Linked DNA regions of Homo sapiens: region 2 is linked to region 1. Evidence: fine-mapped expression QTL. A gene starts in region 1. The other region holds a variant in brackets. All regions are shown on one strand. Distances are from middle to middle.

Region 1 (5,371 bases):
ATAGAAAGCCGGTTAATCTATCACGGCTTTAGAGCAGGGTTAATTTAAGGAGGCTTCTAAGTCAAGAGGCATGAAATAACTTTGTCTAAATAGGAAGTAGCACCCTTTGAATTACTTGCTAAGTTACCTCTGACTTCACAATCACCTACCAAATAAAGGACTTTAAAATGCCTGTAATCCCAGCACTTACAGAGGCCAAGGCAGGTGGATCACTTGAGGTCAGGAGTTCGAGATCGGCCTGGCCAACGTGGCAAAACCCCATCTTTACTAAAAATACAAAAATTTGCTGGGCGTGGTGGTGCACTCCTGTAGTCCCAGCTACTTGGGAGGCTGAGACAGAAGAATCACTTGAACCTGGAAGGCGGAGGTTGCAGTGAGCCAAGATCGCACCACTGCACTCCAGAGAGAGACTCCATCCCCTCAAAAATAAAAAAAAATAATAATAATAATAATAAAATAATAAAAATAAAATTGCCTACAAAAGTCTCTCTTCCTTCCCATAAACTCTCTATTACATTGTATTTTACAATATTTAGAAACATCGTGGTGCCACATGTAATTTTTTATTTAAATACATCAAGTCTTCATGAGATTAAACAAATATTACGGGAACCAAGAAAACGGTATTAGTGTCAGACCAAGAAGATGGTGGGTTACCTCAGTATAAGCAAACATTCTCTGTGTTTGCTTGAAGTTCATACTGCACTCAGTCAGTTTGAAAAACTGACCAGGATGAACAAGAAACAGAAATAACAGTATGGAAATAAAACTACATGAGATAATGCTTAATTCATGGATCTCAGCTTTGTGGGCCTACTCAACCAGATGGCCACTTGAAGCCAAGAATTTTTCCCCAGCAAACACAGAGGGTTGGGGTGGGGGTGATAATAAAATGTGAGCAAGGCGCATGTTTCTAAAATAGCACTCTGTATTCTCTTCTATCGCTCACCTTTGAACTGCTTCTTAATTTAAAACCCACTCATGGTTATGCACACTTCTGTTTTAAGTCTTTCTGGTGATAATGTCTTGTGCCAAATCTGTGCTTTAGAAATCAACATAAGAAGCCATATTAAGTAGGGAGAGAGAAAGGAGGAGGGAGTTGGAGGCAGGTGGAGAAGGAAGGAGGGGGTCCTGCCTTGCTGAAAGCAAGAGCGAGTAATTCTTCTTGGCCTCAAAATTCTACATATCTGTGAAATTTTAATGGGGGAATATTCTAAGAACTTTGTGACATACACGTTCTTCTCTAGTGTAATTTTCCAGTGAATTCCAACCAAGTTTTCCTGACTGAGGGGAACAGAATCTGATTGCAGAATGTTTTTCAGTGCTCTAAAAGTCATGCATACGTACCATCCCTCTGTTTTATGACCACATTTGTCAAAAGAACTGATTTGAAGGAGCCTGTTCTTAATAACAATCAAAGTCTTATTGGTTTCTTACTATGTTCTCATAAGAGAAAGACATCACTAAAGTTAATATGCTGTTAAGCAATAAAGGAAATGTAAACAATCTAACCTCCTCCTTAGACGGAAGGTTGCTTTGAAATAAAATCTAAATGGCTATTGTTAATACCGGACAATCAGGCTCGAAAATTACTCCCTTTCCACAATTAGGTGATTGGAGAAGGATTTCAGGAGACCTTATTCAACCTTTTCCCCAATTGATTAATTTGTAATGTCAGACATTATAGGATTTGTTTAAATCTTAGCTCTAAAAAAAACTTTGCATTTTAAAGTCTTAGCTTATAAACATGTCTTGAGTATAAGCAACAAAGTTTACGATTTGGGCCCAATTTAAGAATACTGTGACTGCAGAGAAAAAGGGGGAATTGGTTGGGAAAGGTAAGGAGATCTTTCAACTCTTCCAGCCAATTTGGCTTAAGAGTTGGGGGCGGGGTGGAGGGTGGGGAACAGACTTGTGTTTGGCGGTGACTCTTCATTTTACTGTGAAACTAGGAGAGATAGGTGGTCACATTTCGACCATCAAGCCCAGAAGAGAGGAGAAACTCAACGTGTAATTGGGAAACTCTGGGGGAGGAAACGTCACAGGTTTGACAAGCAATTCAGTGCCATCATTAATAACAATATCCAGCCAGAGAAACATAACGAGACCCCTTCTTTACAAATAATTTAAAACATTAGCCAGACATGGTGTTGGCCTGTGGTCCCAGCTACCACCGGGAGGCTGAGGCGGGAGGATCGCTTGAGCCTGGGAGGTCGAGGCTGCAGTGAGCCCTGACTGCACCGCTGCACTCCAACCTGGGAGACAGAGCGAGACTCCTTCTCAAAAATAAACAAAATCAATATCGACCATTTCGCATTCAGAAGCCCAGTGGGCCATGGTCTGTGTATACCTTTTCTGACCAGTGGCGTCTGCAGGAAAGAATGTGGGTGCCAGTGAGCAAAGGTTCACGGTCTCCCCCAAACCTGTCCCTCTGAGACAGAAAAATGCTGGGGCTGGGGTCAGCCGAGGGGAGGGGACGGCCAGGCCACCGGATGTCAGGCCCGGTTTCCCTCCAGAATCTTGTAAGTCGAAAGGGAAGGTTGTCCCCCATCCTGGGAGAACTGGAGCGGAGCGGCGGGGGCGAGGGGGCCGTTACCTGTGGGTCTGCCCTTCCTCCCCTGCCGGGGCTACAGGGGTCGAGGGGCTGGGCGGGCGGGCCGGTCCAGGGCGCAGGAGCCGCCCATTAATTGCGCGGGGACGGCCCTGAGCTCCTCTTCCTCCTCCTCTTTTTGCTTCTTCACTCCCTACACCTGCCCCTCTTCCTCCTCCTTCCCCGAGGCTGCTTTCCGCGGCGCCGGCCGGCCTTGCCTGGGGCGGAGGCGGTGGGGGCGGCTACCGGGCGTCCTCCGGTTTCCCTAGCAACCGCGCCTCCCCGCCCCCGCGCGACCAGGTGCAGCCGCCGAGAGCACGGGGCGGGGCGGGGCGGGGCTGTGGCCCCGGGGTCCCAAGCCAGTCGTGGGCGCCCGCCGGTTGCCGTGGGAACGAGGCGGGCTGCAGTCGGGGAGTCAGAGCCACGCTGGTGGGCAGAGAAGAGATGCCCAAGGAGGAGGCGGTTGGCTTTGTCTGGGTGCCCAAGCCCAGACCCAGATATCCAGGCCTCTGCTCCCTTCCCTGAAAGGGTGCTGTGCTTCATAAAAAATGAGATTAGAAAACGAGAGAGGAAAATATTTTTAATGGAATCAGGGAATGTGAAAAGCGGTACATGCGAAGAGGAAAAGATACTGCAGTCCTGGAGTTCGACCTCTGCAGAGGACATCTGGAATGCTCTGGTCCAACACGAAAAAGAAGAAATAAGCGATGAAGCCAGGCACCCAGTCAGTGGCAGAACCGACATTAGAGCCCAGGCCTCTTCGTAATCAGTCGTCTTCACCCCCTTTCCAAGGAGAGAGGTGCTTAGAGGCCTAGACCAGGCCCTACAGCTTTGGAGCCAGGGCACCAGAACCGCTACTACCCTCACCTTCTCTGTGCCAGGTTGATTTCTTTCTTTTTCTTTTCTTTTCTTTTCTTTTTTTTCTTTCTTTCTTTTTTTTTTTTTTAGACAGAGTCTTGCTCTGTAGCTCAGGCTGGACAGTGCAGTGGCACGATCTTGGCTCACTGCAACCTCTGCCTCCGGGGCTCAAGCGATTTTCATGCTTCAGCCGTCCGAGTAGCTGGGATTACAGGCATGCGCCACCACACCCGGCTAGTTTTTGTATTTTTTTTTTTTTTTTAAGTAGAGACGGGGTTTCTCCATGTTGGCCAGGCTGGTCTCGAACTCCTGACCTCAAGTGATCCGCCCGCCTGGGCCTCCGAAAGTGCTGGGATTACAGGCATGAGCCACCTTGCCCGGCTTTGCCGGGTTGATGTCTGTCTGTGGTTCTCATGGGCAAAGATGACTCCCCTATTTACTTTGCATATTTAGGCTCTCAACTTGTCAACTGATGTCAAGTTAGGGTATTTTTGATTGAGTGGAGAGTAAGGTAAAGGAAGAATAGAAATTCTTGGAACTTTCATCAGTGCCCGGAATCCCTAGGTGTCTGTGGTTTGACCGTCTTCTCAACACCTCCCCTTCCCCCCATTCAGTTGGTGCCAAGTCCTTGGCAGCGTCACATTCTTCTTTCTATTCTTATCACTCTAGTTTTGGGCTCCATGACCTAGTTTTGGGCTCCATGGATTATTCTGAGGGCCTCCTGGTCACACCCTGGGCGCCTGTCCTCCACACCCTATCTTCACCATTTCCCCCATCCTATAAGCAGCCTACATCTAATGTTGCTGGCCCCCTGCTTAAAAAGCCCTGAAAGGTTCCTCACCGCCTGTGGAATGAAGTCCAAACTCGTCACTATGACTTTCCCTGTGCCCTCCCCCACAGTTTCCTTTCTTGGTTTTTCCCCTTCATCACTTCTTCACTCATACTTCAGCCAGATGGGACTATGTGTTACACACTGAACATTTTTCCTTGCCTTCACACCAGCTTCAAAGACATATCATGAGCTGGGCAGAGTCTAGACAAATGTACTTAGCTGAAGTCTTTCCACTGGGCACTTTCCCATCTGAACTTCGCTGGTCCTCCAGCAGACCCTAGGATCTTTTCATCTCTAGTAGCCCAGTCCATATTCTGTTCTTGTTCTCAGCTGATTATCAAGTATTCCTTAGTAAAGCATTAACTGATAATTGAAGTATTAACTGATAAGGATGTAACCTAAGAACTTGCCTCATGGTTTTTGCCTTTCAAAAGGATATGCTTTGGGCCAGGCATGGTGGCTCACGCTTGTAATCCCAGCACTTTGGGAGGCCGAGGCAGGGGGATCACCTGAGGTCAGGAGTTTTGAGACCAGCCTGGCCAACATGGTGAAACCCCATCTCAACTAGAAATACAAAAATTAGCCAGGTGTGCTGGCAGCCACCTGTAAACCCAGCTACTCAGGAAGCTGAGGCAGGAGAATTGCTTGAACCCAGGAGGCGGAGGTTGCACTCCAGCCTGGGCGACAAGAAACTCTGTCTCAAAAAAAAAAAAAAAAGTTTGGATGCGCACACTGGGTTGAAACTATAATAGTGAAATGATAGGTAGGGAGCTTGTTCTGTTGGCGCGAGGACCCACCTCAAATAAAAATAACAGAGGAGGAAGTTGAAGCCCAGGTTCTCACCTTGTTGAAGGTAAGGGACATGACCAGAACATATGGTAAGTACCAGAACCAGGGTTCAAAAACAGGGCTTTCCATCTCCAGTAACTTGATGTTGCCCACTACTAAGAAAAGCACCTTGGTACTTCCTGTACCCAGACAAGATCTATTAAAATAATACTATCTATCTCAAAAGCTTGCTGTGGGAATTAAATGAGAGAGGACAAGCAAAGCATTTCACATCATGCTTGGCACATAGCACTCAATAATTG
Region 2 (5,371 bases), 97 kb before region 1:
GGGCCCAGCATCATAAGAGGCAGGCATAGAAGGCCTGGCTTTGCATTCATATAGCTCACAACTTCACTGAGGAGACCAGTTGTTTATGGGATTGCAGGAAACCCCAGGAAGCCCCAGCCAGGGAAGAGCTTATGTTGTCAAATTCACAGCCTGTAGGAATTCACTGGGTCCACTAGTTCTCTTGCACAGGTGCTACTTTCCAGTTATTTCCTGGTTTTATAAATATGTGTCTCCTCTTTCAACTCCTTGACAAGCTCTTTACGGAAAGGGACATCAGGGCGTCATGTCTAGCGTCTAGTAGCTTCTTTCCCTGATCCTCATCTCCGCACCTGGTACAGGGCAGTGCATGAATGGATGACAAATGATCACCACCATTAACAGGCATTTGTCAGCCGGGCACGGGGGCTCACACCTGTAATCCCAGCACTTTGGGAGGCCAAGGCAGGTGGATCACCTGAGGTCAGGAGTTCGAGACCAGCCTGACCAACATGGTGAAACCCTGCCTCTACTAAAAATACACAAATTAGCCGGGCACAATACACCGATAATCCCAGCTACTCAGGAGGTGGAGGCAGGAGAATCACTGGAACCCGGGAGGCAGAGGTTGCAGTGAGCTGAGATTGAGCCACTGCACTCCAGCCTGGGTGACAGAGCAAGACTCTTGTCTCAAAAAAATAAAACAAAAAAACAAAACAAAAAAAACGAGGCATCCATCACTGGGTCTCTTCATGAGACACAACCAAGAAACACAATGTGAGTGAATTCTCCAGTTCTGGTAGATGAAGGAGAGGGAAGGAGGGCTTCTCTGCTGACTTAGTGCCTCTCTTTTGCTCAATGTTACCATCAGATTCTGAATGTTTTCTACGAGAAATTACTGAGATGCAAATCAAGAAGTGTGAATTTAACAAGAGCCAGTTGGTTTCCTACTTTCATTTGGGTGCCTTTTTTTGTTTTTTGTTTTAAACAGGGTCTCACTCTGTCACACAGGCTGGAGTGCGGTGGCACCAATCATGGCTCACTGCAGCGTCAGCCTCCCGGCAGCATCAACGGCACCGGGCCTGGGTGCCTCTTAACTGGTTATCTGTACCTGTTACTGCTCGGTGGTCTAAGTGGGTGAGATCAATTTCAGGGTTTCTCCAGTTCAATGTGAGCTTGTGGTGAGAGAAGAGTGTCCCTGGTCCCTCCTGCTGCTTTTTGCTCTGGTTCCCAGCTTGCTCCTTGCAACTTCTTCCTAGTCCAGGACAGATTTACTGGAAGTTTCTTTAGAGGCAGTGCTTTAGGGCTTTGGTCTTCATCTGTTGGGTTGTACTGTTTGTCGTTTGTCATGTTTGCTTTGCAAGCCTGGTGGCTAATGTTGCTTGCATTGGCTCACTGCTCTTGGGGCCATCTGTAACCTGTATCAACCCCGGATGCTTTGAAGTTCAGTGTGCAATAAAAAGTTCATTAAAAAGATGTGGAATCATGAAAATAAGGTTACAGAAATGTTAACAAAGGATCATATCCTGCTTCTGGTACTTTTCTTTTTTAAAAAATGTATTTCTTTGAGAAATTTATGTCAGCATTTAAACCATGGAAGAGTTTAGGAAGGACAGGCCTGGGTCAAAAGGAGGGTGAGATTCTTGAGGAGATATCTTGGCAGAGCCCCAGCCTGTTGTCTTAATTGAGAGCTCAGGGTCTAAGGAGAGAATGTGAGCCAGAAAAAAAAAAATCTAGGTTTCTTATGACTAACAGTTTGAACCCAGCTTTTTTTTTTTTTTTTTTTTTTTTTTGAGACGGAGTCTCATTCTGTCACCCAGGCTGGAGTGCAGTGGCACAATCTCAGCTCATTGCAACCTCTGTCTTCTGGGTTCCAGCGATTCTCCTGCCTCAACCTCCCAAGTAGCTGGGATTACAGGCGTGTGCCACCACACCCAGCTAATTTTTTTGTAATTTTAGTAGAGACAGGGTTTCACCATGTTGGCCAGGTTGGCCTCAAATTCCTGAGCTCAAGTGATCCTCTAGCCTCGGCCTCCCAAAGCGCTGGGATTACAGGCATGAGCCATCACACCCAGCCAGGTTCCTCTTTTTCGCAGGTCCTCCATGTTCGGGTGCCCACACGTAATACACAACCAGCCCCTGCATCCTTGCTCTCCTCTATTTTTGGGGGGCAAATATCCTAGAGGCTCATTCGGTTATATGACCATTGATGACCATTTAATTACTACTCATGTTTAATAATAAGCAATTATGTGATCGTCACTTACTTTTCAGCCAGAGGGTCACCATGTGTACACTTAGCAGCTGCTAAATCTTAGTCCTAACAATGATAGTCCCATATCCTCCCAAGCGACCGTGAGGACCTCAACAGCTTGCACATCTAATAAACAGCACTGCAGGGTTTTCAGGGCTGCCACCGGACAGCTCTGGGTCACAGCCAGACTTACCCTCTCTCTTTCCACCTGGTTGTGGTTGAGCCTCATGAGTTCTGCAAACCTCTGCTCATAGAGGTGAAGCAGCAGCACCAGGTACAAGCCTGAATTCATCAGCTCGTTTTGTGCCTACAAATGGAAAAGAAAGCTCTTCAGTTCATCTGTAAAATAGTCATGGTCTAAATTGTGGGATGCAGGGTAACAAGGCTAAGAGGTGACAAGAACTGGGAGAAGAGCCCAAGCTCCAAGGCAAGGCCTGCTCTTGGGGACCAGAAGACAGAGCAGGAGGAGATCCAGGGTAGAGGCCAGGGCAGCCACTCCCCTGGGATTTTTTACTAGCTAGTGGAGGATGCTCGGAGAAAGTTCCATTTTCCAGGCTCAATCCCATTCCACATTTATTGAGCAGTTACATATGCAAAGCCTTGAGCTGGATGTTGTGGGGAACACAGGGCAAAAAGCCTCAGAACTCCCTGCTGGGAACCGATCACCTGGTGTGGGGGAGAGAGCTTCATCGGTAAACAGCTCCAGTACAAGCTGGATGTGTCGGGTGCTACAACAGAGATGCACCAGGCCTTGTCCATAACGTTCTCAGCAGTCACAGATGTCCCCTTGTGAAAGGCTTCCTGAGGAGCCTCCTTTGCCCCCATCATTCCTT[T/C]GCTTCCCAGTCCCTAAGCATTCGTCTTGATCTTGCATATCACCTTTTGCACTTGTTAACGTTTCCGCTTTCTCTTGAGGAGTGGGCTGTGCTTTTTTTCTCGCTGGTGCTCAGAACAGGCGCTACACAGGGAGGATGTGATGGTCTGGCTGCCCATGGCACTTCTCTGTCCTTAGCACTTGGGCTTTGCTGCCAAGAGTGGCTGTGCTCACTCTAGACCTTTCACAGACCTTCCATAAATCAGTGGTATTAGTAACAACTACTCCTATCCCTCTATAGGGGAAGGAGGGGAAGGCCCTTTCAGTCCCCATCTTTCCCTTGAGTGGGGGTCTTGGGATGGGCCAGGCTGTGCTCACAAAGCCACCCAGCCCCCGGGGAATAGAGTCCCCAGCAGAGGGCATGGCCCCTTCCGTCACCCTTGGGAAAGCTTGCAACTGTGACTCTGTCGGCCCAGGATAACGATGCGTGGGCATGAATGACACAGTGAGCACTCAGTGTCTCATCTGCCTTCTTCCTGCAGCAGCGCGGGTGCCACATCTTCCTGTTCTCATTAGATCCAGGGCAGCTCAGGAGGTTGGCACAGAACCCACCTCTCCCAGGACCAAGCAGCTGCCAGAAAAGGCACAGAAGTTGAGCAAGGATTGATATGCTCTTCCTTCTGAATCAGGGCCAACTCTGGATCTTGGTGACAGCCGGCCCTGAGATCACTGCTGCAGGCCTCTCCACCATTCTACAGATCCATCTTCGAAGGCCCCAGTCCTCTGTCCTTAGCAGTTAGCCTCCTATTTTTAGCCTTTGGTCGTGTTTTTTGTGCTCTGCTGACCTTGGCCTAGAGTGAGTAGAGAAGAAGTTGCTTGTTTGCATTATTTCTGTTTTATTTATTTAATTTTATTTTTGAGACAGACACAGTCTTGCCCAGGCTGGAGTGCAATGGCGTGATCTCGGCTCACTGCAACCTCCACCTCCCAGGTTCAAGCAATTCTCCTGCCTCAGCCTCCTGAGTAGCTGGGATTACAGGTGTGCACCACCACGCCCAGCTAATTTTTGTATTTTTAGTAGAGATGGGGTTTCATCATGTTGGCCAGGCTGGTCTCGAACTCCTGGCCTCAGGTGATCCACCTGCCTTGGCCTCCCAAAGTGCTGGGATTACAGGTGTAAGCCACCCTGCCTAGCCACTTTTTCTGTTTTAATTGCCTCCTCCTGCCCTCCCCGTGAGTCTGTGCCTGCCTCCGACTGTCTCGCCAACCACCTCTTCTGAGAAGCCTTCCTCACCTGGCTTTTAGCTCCTCCTCACCAACAAAGCCTTGGTCCTTATTTGTTTACCTCATCCCCGGCTTCCTCCTGCAAAAGCTGCCAGTGGTTCTCTCACCAGTGCTCTTTGCCAGCCAGCTTTTATGCTTGAGACACCGGGATGCATGATGACAAATCAATCAGCTAGAAAATGGTTTGGAACTATCAGGTTTGTCAAAGCATTCAGGAAAATCATTTACTTTTTATGACTCAATAAGGCCCAGAGGCATGCAGATGGGAGAATATCCACTAATGTTTTCTGCAGATAATTTGAAAAGTCACTTCTAGCAGATTGTGTCTCTTCTCTGATCTGTGGGAGGGAACCTGCCACACAGTGCCATCAATCTCGCCGGCTCGGTTCCTTTATGTGCGCCCTTTGCAGAGCTGGTGATGCTCGACAAAGGGGCTCAGCCCACCAATCAGAGCAGGCGTGTGATAGTCAACTCCGAATCAGCCTTTACACTCCTGAGCTACAAGTGGGAGGGATTTGTTAACTCAAAGAGTTCCACCGCACTTGGCTGGCCAGGGCCAAATGAACGAGGTTTTGGAGCAGGGCTTACTGGAGCTACGGCCCATCCACCCCTTCCTTGTCCCAATCACATCACACTTTGACTCCCACGTGGAGTTCCCTTTGTGTGCCAGACTGAAGGGAATGGGGGTGGCATTAATAGGAGGGGGCGGGGACATTAAAAAGGAGAAGGCATGTGAAACAGCGCAAAAGGGCTCCGGAGATCTCAGCCCACCTGCCAGCTGTTTTCTCCATTTTGCTAATATTCATTTAGGCCAAGAGACTTGCTACTGACGGAAATTCTCAATATATTCCACTTAAAGAAGCTGACAGCCTGGCTGAATGTTCTATCAAGTCTTCAAATATATTCAAGAGTGCTCCTAGGTATAAGGGTGATTAGGTGACTGCGTGTGTCTGAGGACATCTGTCCTTGGCTGAGATGGAGCCAGGCCAGGCCTGTGCTTCACAGCAATGACAGCCTGAGGCCCACTGAGACTCTCCTGTGCGGCA

Alleles and levels. Alleles are on the strand shown, and positions count from the first base shown. SD is a standard deviation of normalised expression in the study named.
As copies of T replace C in region 2, the expression in NK cells of the gene that starts at base 2,834 in region 1 goes down (moderate effect, 0.69 SD a copy in Gilchrist 2021).

Evidence for each region. PIP is the estimated chance that this variant, and not a neighbour inherited with it, causes the effect.
Region 2: its variant is the best candidate, but not a certain one, in a credible set for the expression of MARCHF10 in NK cells (Gilchrist 2021, PIP 0.73).

The regions. Positions count from the first base shown.
Region 1 is chr17:62,805,481-62,810,851 of GRCh38, forward strand. It overlaps MARCHF10 (membrane associated ring-CH-type finger 10), which reads right to left and starts at 2,834. Exons shown (of 11, transcript NM_152598.4): 1 at 2,597-2,834. It overlaps MARCHF10-DT (MARCHF10 divergent transcript), which reads left to right and starts at 3,022. Exons shown (of 2, transcript NR_135634.1): 1 at 3,022-3,471. RefSeq lists a silencer at 2,723-2,872.
Region 2 is chr17:62,708,808-62,714,178 of GRCh38, forward strand. It overlaps MARCHF10 (membrane associated ring-CH-type finger 10), which reads right to left. Exons shown (of 11, transcript NM_152598.4): 9 at 2,424-2,537. The region is part of intron 2 of MARCHF10-AS1 (MARCHF10 antisense RNA 1); the gene reads left to right. Among named protein-coding and RNA genes, the nearest start is that of MARCHF10-AS1, 5.3 kb to the left of the region's middle. The variant T/C (reference allele first, on the strand shown) is at 3,064.